2 separate regions of the Homo sapiens genome follow, and region 2 is linked to region 1. Evidence: fine-mapped expression QTL. A gene starts in region 1. The other region holds a variant in brackets. All regions are shown on one strand. Distances are between the middles of the regions.

The links.
Region 2: its variant is fine-mapped to the expression of HCN2 in whole blood (TOPMed, PIP above 0.99). The same link has a PIP of 0.9 or more in T cells and blood mononuclear cells.

Annotation. Positions count from the first base shown.
Region 1 is chr19:587,699-592,950 of GRCh38, reverse strand. It overlaps HCN2 (hyperpolarization activated cyclic nucleotide gated potassium and sodium channel 2), which reads right to left and starts at 3,070. Exons shown (of 8, transcript NM_001194.4): 1 at 2,374-3,070. The coding sequence starts at 3,005. It also overlaps the pseudogene LOC100420586. RefSeq lists an enhancer at 4,301-4,880.
Region 2 is chr19:607,179-612,642 of GRCh38, reverse strand. It overlaps HCN2 (hyperpolarization activated cyclic nucleotide gated potassium and sodium channel 2), which reads right to left. Exons shown (of 8, transcript NM_001194.4): 4 at 4,461-4,679; 5 at 2,238-2,384. It overlaps LOC107987266 (a long non-coding RNA gene), which reads left to right. Exons shown (of 2, transcript XR_001753828.2): 2 at 1,489-2,703. Among named protein-coding and RNA genes, the nearest start is that of HCN2, 20 kb to the right of the region's middle. RefSeq lists an enhancer at 1,424-1,733. The variant G/C (reference allele first, on the strand shown) is at 2,400.

The DNA of each region.
Region 1 (5,252 bases):
GAAACTGAGGCAGAGGGGCCCAGCGAGGACCCAAGACACCCAGCCAGGCACAGGAGGCCTTGGGCCCGAAGCCAGTTGGGGCCAGGCTCCTGAGTCAGCTGCAAACGTAGAGGCCCCTTCGCTTGCTGTGGGCTGCCCCAAAACACCCTCCACAGCAGGGTCCGGCCGCCTGCTTAGGGAGCTTTTGAGATATTCTTGGGGGTCTTTTTCCACACTGATTCCACACTGGCACAGGTCCCAAGCCTGGGGAGGGTCCTAGGGGCCCCGTGCACCCAGCTTGGCAACATCGAAATCCTTTTTTAAAATCTGACTGCCGTGACTCCCCTAGTCCCGAAGACAGGCCCCGCTAACCCCATTCCCTGCCTGCTCAGTTCCACTTCAACACTCATCTGCCGGGGTGGGGCTGCACTTGGTCCACACAGGGGCCTCTGAGCCCTCTATGCCTCAGAGCACAGAGCGGGGCCACAGCCTGCCCAGGCCTCCAGGCGACCACGCCCAAGGAGGGTGGAAGGATGAGAGGGCTTCACTCCTACCACCGGCCTTCCCCCCAAGCCCCGGGATCAGCCATCTGCCCACCTGCCCCCCAGGCCACCGACCGCCCCTCTGCAGCCAGGGGGTCGCTGGAGCTGCCCAGGGGAGGGAGTGGCTGGTGTGGGCCTCCACCTGCCAGCCCCCACGCTGCGGTGCACCCATCTCTGTCGAAGGTCATGCTGGAGGGGACGGAGGGGAGTGGGCACGTTCTACAGCTCCCTCTCCACCGCGTCCCTCTCCGGTCAGGGGGTGCCACTGCCCGACTGGAAGTGGGGCCAGGCCGACCAGCAGCCCTGGAAGTCCAGTCCTTCCCGCTCACTGTCCACATTTCGCAGGCCAGAGCCCAGATGCTGACCAAGCTCTCCCGGTGGGGCACAGAGGCAGGGTGGGAGGGGCCGGACACAGCCCCTCTGGGGATTTCGGGGCTCCTCCCACCCCTGGCCTGTCTCGAAATCCAGGCTTCTGGTCAAAGCTGTATTCACCTCTCAGGAAGGCCTGGGGTGGGAGGAGGATTCCAGGGCCTTCCTCCAGGCTCTGTCCAGGACGCATGTGCCCCAGGCCTCAGTTTCTCCAGTCAAGCACTAGGGGTGCAGAGAATCCAGGGGAAGAGAGAACCCCACAGCCTCCCTGCCCAGTTCCGGGGGTCCAGGGTCCGTGGGGGCTGTCCTGGGGCGCCCAGGCCTGGAGGAGGAGAGACAGGCGGGAAAACCGCAGGCTTCCCAGGTCCGGCGCGCTGTCCGTGGTGCTGAAACCGCGCCCGTCCCGCGCGCCCGGCCTCGCTAGCCCGGCGGGCCCCACCTACACCCTCCACCTGCACCCTCCACACCCCACCTCACACCCCACTCGTGGATACACAAACACACACGCATCCCTCCATGGTCGCGTGTGTGAGACCTGCCTGCGGCTCACACTACTGCCCACCGGTGCACACCGGCCCCGGGCGTACACGCGCACGCCCGCCACCTGGTCCCAACACACACAAACCACACGTCCCACCAAAATAAACCCACCGGAGGCGCACACGCCCGCGACCACCACGCAAACACACTCCTGGAGACACACCTCTCCGGCCACAGGCTCGCGCCCCGGGAACCCCGCCGCGGTCACGGGCCCCTGTTCACACACAGCCCACGGGGACACGCGCCGGTCTCGCTCTCCGGCCACAGCACGCACAGCCCAGGAACCACGACCGCAAACATCAGTGGCGGTGGCCCCGCGCCGGCCCTGCTCCGAGCCTTCCACGCATTAGCCGGCTGGATCCACAGCGGCGTCTACACACCCACCGCCGCATGCGCGCACCGCCCGCGGCTCGGGTGGAGCGGCTCCCGGGGACACAGCCTGGGGACCCGCACGCTTTCCAGGCCCGCGGCCCCGGGCGCGCCTCCTCGCAGGCGGGGCGCGGGTGGACGCCGTGGGAGCCGCTTAACCCCCTCTCCCCCGGCCTCCCTGGGGCGCGTCCTTCCCGGGCGCCCTTCGTTCCTCCTCCCTCCCGCTCCGCCGCCTCTCTGGGGCCCACGTTCCCCTCTATTCGTCCTCTCTGCCCCTCTGCGCTCAGACCCTGGCCCTGCGGCCCACCCCACCCGCCGCGCCGCAGGGCGGAGGATGTCGGGGTGCGTGGGAGGGGGGCGCTCCGCGGTCACCCGGGGAGCCCCCCCAGAGGCGGAGCCTCGCGCGCCGGGGTCACTCCGGGGCGGGTCCCGGACACGCCCGAGGTCACCGAGGAGCCCCGAGGTCACCGGCCCGGCGCGCCGCCCCGCCCTCCCCAGGCGCTCCAAGGACGGCTCCCCGCGCGCCCGGCTCCCCGGGCCCCCTCGCGCCGACCGGCCCTCCCGGAGGCGGTACCTGAAGTCGCTGTACGGGTGGATGATCCAGGCCCCCGCCGACTTGACGCGCTCCTGCTCGCGCTCCACGGCCTTCTGGCTGCCGAACATCCGCAGCGAGAACTTGTTGACGCCCGGCTGCAGGAGCGCGCCGAACTGGCGCTGCATGAAGCTGGCCTGGCTGCCGCGCGGCTCCCCCGCCGGGCCCGCCTCCTCGCTGCCCGCCTCCTCCGCCGGCCCCGGCCCCGGCGCGGGCCCCGAGGCCGCCCCGCGGCACGAGAACGACACCTTGGGCCCCCGCGCCGGGCCCTCGGGCCCCGCGGGGCTGCACTGCGGCTCGCCGCGCCCGCACTCGCCGTTCGGGCTGCCCTTGGCCGTGCTCGCCGCGCCCGGGGTGCCGGGGCGGCCGCACGAGCTGTCGCGGCTGCGGAGCCGGCCCCGCGGGCCGCCCTCATCCGCCGCCTCCGGGGGCAACGCCTCGGCCCGGGGCGGGTGCTGGGGGGGCGCGGGCCCGGGGCCCGGGGGGGGCGCGGGCGGCGGCGGCGGCGGCGGCTGCTGTTGGGGGGGCGCGGGCGGCGGCGGCGGCGGCGGCCCCGGCGCGGGGGTCGCGCCCGGGCTCTCCCCGGGCCGCCCGCCGCCCCCGCGCGCGTCCATGGCGAGGCGGCGCCGGGCAGTGCGGAGCGGAGCCGCCGCCGCCGCCGCCGGCCGGAGCCCGAGGGAGGGGGGAGGCGGGGGCGGGGCGGGGCGGAGCCGCGGGGGGCGGAGCCTCGCGGCGGGGGAGGGGCGGGGGAGGGGCGGGGGCGGGAGACCCGCCTCGGCTGCGCCCCCTCCCCGCGCGCCGCCTCCGCTCGGCGCCGGGAAACTCGGGCCGCGGGGTCGGGGGCGCCCCAAGGTCACGCGGCCCGAGGCCTCGGAGCCCCGCGCGGGCCTCTCCCCAGGAGGGGAAACTGAGGCCCGCGACGTGTAAGGACGCGCCCAAGGTCACCGGGCCCCGCTGCCCGGCCGGAGCCGCCTCTCCTGCGCCGCGGCTTCCACCTCTGTCCGGAGGGCACCGGCGCGGGGAGGGTGGACGCGGGCCTGGGAGACGGGAGAGGCCGCCACGGCCAGCGCCTCCTTGCTTTCTGTGAGGTTTGAAGACTTCCACGACGAAAGGGTGTTTCTAAAGGTCACAGGAGCCCTTGCTGGGTCGCCTGTGGGCCCTGGACAGAGACCCTTGAGTGCGTGGGGAGGGGCAGGCCGGCTTGGGCGCCGTTCTGGGAGACTCAGGCACTCCTCTCCCTGGTCTGCATTTGAGGAAACTGAGGCCAAGCCCAGCCAGACAAGGAAAACTGGAAAAGCCACCCGAGGGTGTGGGGTTCCCACCCACCCCTCAAACAGTGCCCTGGGGAGCCGTGCGGCGGGGGTCTCCTCTAGGTCTGGTGGGCTTTAGATTGGGGTCACAGGGAGACCCAAAGCCCACTAGCGCCTTCGCACGGGTACCAGAGCCCCCTGCCCCGGGGTTGCCTCCTTTCCCCGACCCCTCGGACTCCGGGTGCAGCTGTGCCCCCAGTGCCTCCAGTCCCCAGCTCTGAGACAGGTGCTTCCCAAGGCTCTGCTTCTGGGCCGAAGCCGGCTGGGCGTGGGTGCTGCTTGGTGCCAGGTGACATGAGGCCTCTGTCCCTAGCCACCCAGCCCACCAGACAGCCGGGAGGGGGCAGGTGAGGAAGCTGGCAAGTGAGAGAGAGGAGACAGACAGTCACACTCGAAGAAGTGGAGGCTGAACATCCCCACCTGGAGGCAGGAGGCCCTCCTGGGACCCTCCTGGCACCTGGCCTGACGTCCTCTCAGCCACGATGTCCCGTGTGCCGGGTGCCCCCCACCCATCTGCACCTCGAGGCCACCGGGGCAGAGATGGCCCTCTTCCTACACCCAGGAGGCACTCAGTGGTACTTGAGGGAGGGCCAGCATGTGCCCGGCTGACAGTGGATGGGCTGAGCCCGACCGTGTCTCTCGCCTCGGCCTGGCTGCCCCACACCCTGGGGATCCCTGCGCCCCCACGCCGGCCCCGCCGGCCACCTCCGCATAGGCGGGCAGGACAGCTGTTTGTCCCAAGGTGGTGCGGGAGAGGCCGGGCGGGCGGCACAGTTGGCAGTGCCAGGCTGTGGCCCGCCCCGAGGCAGATGCGTGCTCCAGCTGAAGGGGGTTCTTTTATGTTCACCCTGGGAAGATGTCAGGCCGGGCAGGTCGCCAGAGCCCCAGGGCTCGCGGCTGGGAGCAGGGAGGAGGCGGGACCCGCACGGCACGAGAACCGCCCATGCCTGGCAGTGGGAGAAGCAGAAAGACGCCTCCTGCAGGCGCCGGCAGAACCCGCAAGTCACAAGGGAGGCTGTGGCTCGGGGTCCTTGTCACCAGATCCTGGCGACGGCTCTGCAGCCCACAGGCTTACCCAGGCCAGCGCCTGTCAGTGTGCACGGGGACCCTCCCTGGCCTCGGCACACTCACTCTGACCCCTTGCCCAGGCCGGAGTACTCTGTATTTATCTGTTTATTTATGTATTTATTTATTTTTGAGTTGGAGTCTCGCTCTGTCGCCGCCCAGGCTGGAGTGCAGTGACGTGACCTCGGCTCACTGCAACCTCCGACTCCCGGGTTTAAGCGATTCTCCTGCCTCAGCCTCCGGAGTAGCTGGGATTACAGGCGCCTGCCACCACGCTCGGCTAATTATTGTATTTTTAGTAGAGACAGGGTTTCGCCATGTTGGGCCAGGCTGGTCTCCAACTGCTGACCTCAGGTGACCCACCCGCCTCGGCCTCCCAAAGTGCTGGAATTACAAGTGTGAGCCACCCCCCCAGCCATGCTCATTTATTTTAATTTAAAAAATATTTAAAGATTGAGACCAGCCTGGCCAACATGGTGAAACCCC
Region 2 (5,464 bases), 20 kb before region 1:
AGGAGTTCGAGACCAGCCTGGCCAACATGGTGAAACCCCATCTCTACTAAAAATACAAAAAATTAGCTGGGTGTGGTGGCGGGTGCCTGTAATCCCAGCTACTCGGGAGGCTGAGGCACGAGTCTCTTGAACCCGGGAGGAGGAGGTTACAGTGAACCAAGATCACACAACTGCACTGGAGCCCGGGTGACAGAGCGAGACTCCATCTCTCTCTCACACACACACACACACACACACACACACACACACCAGTGGAAAGCTACATTCGGTCAGACTATCAGGTGATTTTTGAAAAATCAACATGAAAACCAAGGGTCTGGAGATGAATCAATGGTGTGGGAAGTCAGGGCAATTCCCCTTAGCAAAGGCAGCTTCTAAGGACGGCAGGAACGTTCCAGCTTCGTTCTGTGTGGTGGTTACACCACGTTCCCTTTAGGGACCAGCTATCGAGCTGTGCCCTTATGACCTGGGGCACTTTTTGGTACTTTTTTTTTTTTTGAGACGGAGTCTCGCTCTGTTGTCCAGGCTGGAGTGCAGTGGCACAATCTCGGCTCACTGCAACCGCCGCCTCCTGGGTTCAAGCGATTCTCCTGTCTCAGCCTCCAGAGTAGCTGGGATTACAGGCGCCCACCACCACGCCCGGCTAATTTTGTATTTTTAGTGGAGACGGGGCTTCACCATGTTGGCCAGGCTGGTCTCGAACTCCTGACCTCAGGTGATCTGCCCGTCTCGGCCTCTGAAAGTGCTGGGATTACAGGCGTGAGCCACCACGCCTGGCCATATGTGGGTTTAAAGATTTGACTTTGCAACTCCTAAACACCTAAATAATGACTAAGTAGCGTGGGTTGCCAGGGGCTGGGGACGGGGAGTGAGCTGGTGACTAACACCCCAGGTCTCCTTTTGGGCCCATGAGAATGTTCTGGAGTGAGGCTGTGGTATCGGGTGCAGCACTCTGTTAATACTAAAAGCCACCGCATTTTATGCATTTTGTGGTCTGAGTGTTATATCTCTACAAATGAATGAATGGAAACCGTAGTCATCAAATGCAATTAAACATTCTTGGCGAAGCGAACCGCAGTGTGTGCCTCCTGGGAGCAACGGGTGTACACGCCCCCCCAGAGGCATTCCCGGGGCCCGAGGTCCCTAGTGTCAGGCCCGTCCTGCCCGCCTCCTCGCCCAGCTCCTCCAGCCCCTCCTCGGGGCCTCTGCCCGAGCCAGGTGCTACACCGGGGACACCCTGCCTGGCTCACACACGGCCTTGCTGATGTCGCCTCCCCGTCCTCGTCCCTCCCCGCTTCCCAGAGCTGCTCTCTGCTGCCTGCGTGATCACGGCCGCCATCCCTAGGCCCCGCTTCCTGAGGGTGGGACCTTCAAGCACACGGCAGGGCACGCAGTCGGCGCTCAATAACTGTTTGATGTGTGTTGTGGGTTGAACTACATCTCCCAGAAAGACAGGCTGACATCCTGACCCCCGGTTCCTGTGAATAGGACCTTATGTGGAAATAGGGTCTCTGCAGACATGGCCCAGTTAAGGCGAGGCCACGAGGAACCGGGTGGGCCCTGATCCAACGACGGATGAATTTACAAGAAGAGACAGAGACACACAGGGGAGAAGGCTGTGAGCAGATGGAGGCAGAGATCAGGGAGATCAATCTGCAAGCCAAGGGCGCCTGGAGCCCCAGACGCCGGAAGAGGCAGGAAGGATCCTCCCCAGGGGCTCCGGGGGGGTAGCACGGCCCGGCCCACGCCTTGATGTTGGGCTTCCGGCCTCCAGGACGGTGGGAGGCCGAATCTCCGCTGTTCAAGCCACTCAGCCTGTGGGTATTTGTTCCCGCAACCCTGGGAAACTTGCCCAGGGTCACTCAGGCTACCGGAACAGAGCTGGGAGTTAAACCCGCTCCAATCAGCCTCAGTGCCCCCAGGACCTGGTGCTCAGCGGGGCCTCTGCGGCTCCTCCCTCCCCACCCCCTGCCCTGCTTCTGCCCCGCCCTGTCAGGCACAGACCCAGGCAGTTCTGCTAAGGGGGCAGCGGGAAGCAAGGCGGGGGTGGCGGGGGTCCTGGGGGTGCAGAGGCTCACGGGGCGGGGAGGGGAGGGTGTGTACGCAGGTCTAGCTCGAGTCCCTCCTGCTGCAGCCTAGGCACCTCGCCTCCCTCAGGGACCGGCTCCTGGGCTCCAGGAGAGGGAGGCCGGCCCTGTACCGGAGGCTGCCTCCCGCCCGCCCGGCGCCCGCCTCACCTCCCGCAGGGGCCCGTTGAGCTCGCCCAGGATGCTGTCCTCGTCAAACATCTTGCCCTGGTAACGGTGCTCATAGTAGTCGTGGATCTTCTGGCGGAAGTCAGCTGGCAGCTTGTGGAAGGACATGTACTGCTCCACCTGCTTGTACTGTGGGGAGGAGGC[G/C]AGGCTGGGTCAGACACCGCCCCCGGCCTGCAGCGGGCACAGGGGCACCTGCTTGTACTGTGGGGAGGCGAGGCTGGGTCAGACACCGCCCCCAGCCTGCAGCGGGCACACGGGCACCTGCTTGTGGGTCAGACAGCCCCCCGGCCTGTGGCGGGGAGATAGGCCTTCACACCTGCTTGTACTGTGGGGGGTCAGGGCTGGGTCAGACAAAGCCCCCGCCCACAGCGGGGAGACAGGCCTCCGCCACACACAGGGGCGGCCAGATTCAACAAGAGCAAATAAACATGCTTCTATTTAAATCAAAGTTGAATTCGTTTCAATGATAAATTCCATTTTTTTTTTCTGAGACACTGTCTCGCTCTGTGGCCCACGCTGGAGTGCAGTGGTGCAATCACAGCTCACTGCAGCCTCCGCCTATGGGCTCAAGCAATCCTCCCACCTCAGCCTCCTGAGTAGCAGGGACTGCAGGTGTGCGCCACCACGCCTGGCTGATTCTTTTATTTTTTGTGGAGATGAGGTCTCGCCATATTGCACAGGCTGGTCTTGAACTCCTGGGCTCAAGGGATCCTCCCACCTCGGCCTCCTGAGTAGTGGGGATTACAGGTGTGCACCACCCTGCCCTGCTAATTTTTTAATTTTTTGTAGCGATGAGGTCTCGCCGTGTTGCTCAGGCTGGTCTTAAACTCCTGACCTCAGGCGATCGGCCTGTCTCGGCCTCCCAGAGTGCCGGGATTACAGGCAGGAGCCACTGCACCAGGCCGGGTGCCCTGAACTTTATCTAGCAACCCTATCCCTGAGGAATGGGTGGGCACCTGACTCTACGAGGAGAGGCCCCAGGTACCCTGACACACAGGACCCCCTTCCCGGGGGCTCTGGCCCTTCCCTGATGATCTTTCCAGAAACCATCGGGTCAGCCCCTCCTGAGCAGGGAAGGGAGCGTGGGTGCTGGGCGGGGGTGCCAGGCCCTGCTGTCCCCAGGACGGTGCCCCCCGGCAGCTCCAGCCTCACTTCCGCCCCAGCCCCGCCCGGCCGCAGCTGCCCTGAGCTCAGCGGAACCCGTGACGGCGGGCGGGTGGTGGCACCAGCTTATGTTTGGGTGTGAGGCCCGTGGCTTCCGGACAGCAGGGCGCCTGGCACGGGGCCCAGCTGACCCAGCCAGCCACTGCTCGGGGCGCGGGAGAGGGGGGCACTTGGCTCCCAGCCAGGACCAGCCAGCCGCCTAACATGGGGAAACTGAGGCACAGAGTGGTGCATGAGGCCCAACTCCAGGGGCTGCCAATGGGGCCAATCCTAATCTCCCTCCACCCCTCCCAGCTCCCCCGTGTCCCCTCCACTGCCAAGCCTAGGATTAACCCAATGGACGCTGCAGGCCAGAGGCCGCATCTGAGCAGTGGGGCAGCCTTGCTCTCCCTGAAGCCTGGCCCTGACTGCCGGCCACCGGCGTGTCCTGAAGCAACCCCAGGCCTCTCAGACCCCGCCAGGCCCTTCCCTAACCCAGCCCCATCCTGAGCCGGCCTAGAGACCCCCAGGTGGGCCCAGCCTCCTGGCAATGCCCCTTCAGCCCGGGGGCTTCCCGATGTCCAAAGACTGACCCTGTCCTGCCCTGATCCCAACTCACCCCTTCCTGCCCAGCCTGCATCCCCTCCCCAGCCCCCGCCCCACGTCCATCTCCAGGCTCTGGACCTCCCTCCCTGTCACAGGGTCAGAGAACCTCTCACCACCGGCCGTTTCTCCTCCTAATCACAGCCACAGACCCCCAGGGTCCCCTGCTCCCCATCACGCGGTCTCTGCCCTGAGCGCGCCACTTGAAGCTGAGTGAAGGGCTGAGACTGCCTCTCCCCTCAGACCCCGGGGCCGGGCCCGCCCCTCCCCTCAGACCCCGGGACAAGGACTACCTCCGCCCTCAGACCCCAGGGCAAGGCCTCCCTCCAGCCTCAGACCCCAGGACCGGGCCTGCCTCCCTCCATCAGACCCCAGGGCCTGGCCTGACTCTCTCTCAGACCCCAGATCCAGGCCCGCCTCCCCCATCAGAACCCAGGCCGGGGCCCGCCTCCCTCAGACCTTCTCCTGGTACTGGCGCCGCGAGGAGTCCAGCGACTGGATGAGGGCAGTGGCGTGGCCGATGAACATGGCGTAGCAGGTGGCACCCACAATCATGCTGAGCATGGTCAGCCAGATGTCCGTCATGCTCTCGGGCGCCTGCCGGCCGTACCCGATGCACAGCATGTGGCTCATGGCCTTGAAGAGTGCGAAGGAGTACAGTTCACTCCACGAGTGGTTCTGCAAGGCCAGCAGGAGGGGCGGTGGTGGGCAGGTGCTCACGCCCCAGGAGCCCTCGGTCCTCAAGGGCCCAGCGCCCACCCTCTGCCAAGCACTGGAGGTGGTGAGCTCCCCATGTTCAGAGGTAACCAAGAGAAATGGAGACCCAGGTAGATGACATGGTTTGCACACTTGTCACAGTGAGTTGGCAGGAGGGCCAGGGCTGATTCTACCTGCCCGCTTCACTCCTGGGGAAACTGAGACCCCAAGGGCGAGAGTCTGGGTCCCGCCTTTTGCAGCCTCTGAGATCAGAGCATCTGTGAGGTCAAGAGGGGGCAAAAGTTCCAGGGAGCATCTGGGCCAGAGCAGAGGGGCAGGGCGGGCAGAGACACCAGGCCGGCCCAGGAGGTCCTGCCGCACCAAGTCCTCAGCTGACCCGGCCGGGAAAGGGGAGCCGCGGGGCTCTGTTCAGGAAATGGGACCGCATGTGCGGGTGGCAGCCAGACAATGGGCTGCCTCAGCCTGGGCAGCTGTGCCAGGCTCTGGGGAGGGGCACTGGCGGGTCTTCCCTCTGTAGCTCCTGACCCCATCAATGCCCACCTGCTCTGTGTCCAAACCAAACACATCCCAAGTCCCATATGTGGCTGGACGCTGGGGCACAGCACTCCCCAGGCAGGGACAAAGGCTCACTGGCCACTAACCTGACTGTAGCGGCCGAGGGCTCCCATAACTAACCCTTCTTAACAGTCAGCACATCTCAGCTAGGAAGCAAGGAGTATCTGGGACCTAACTTCATTTATTATTCC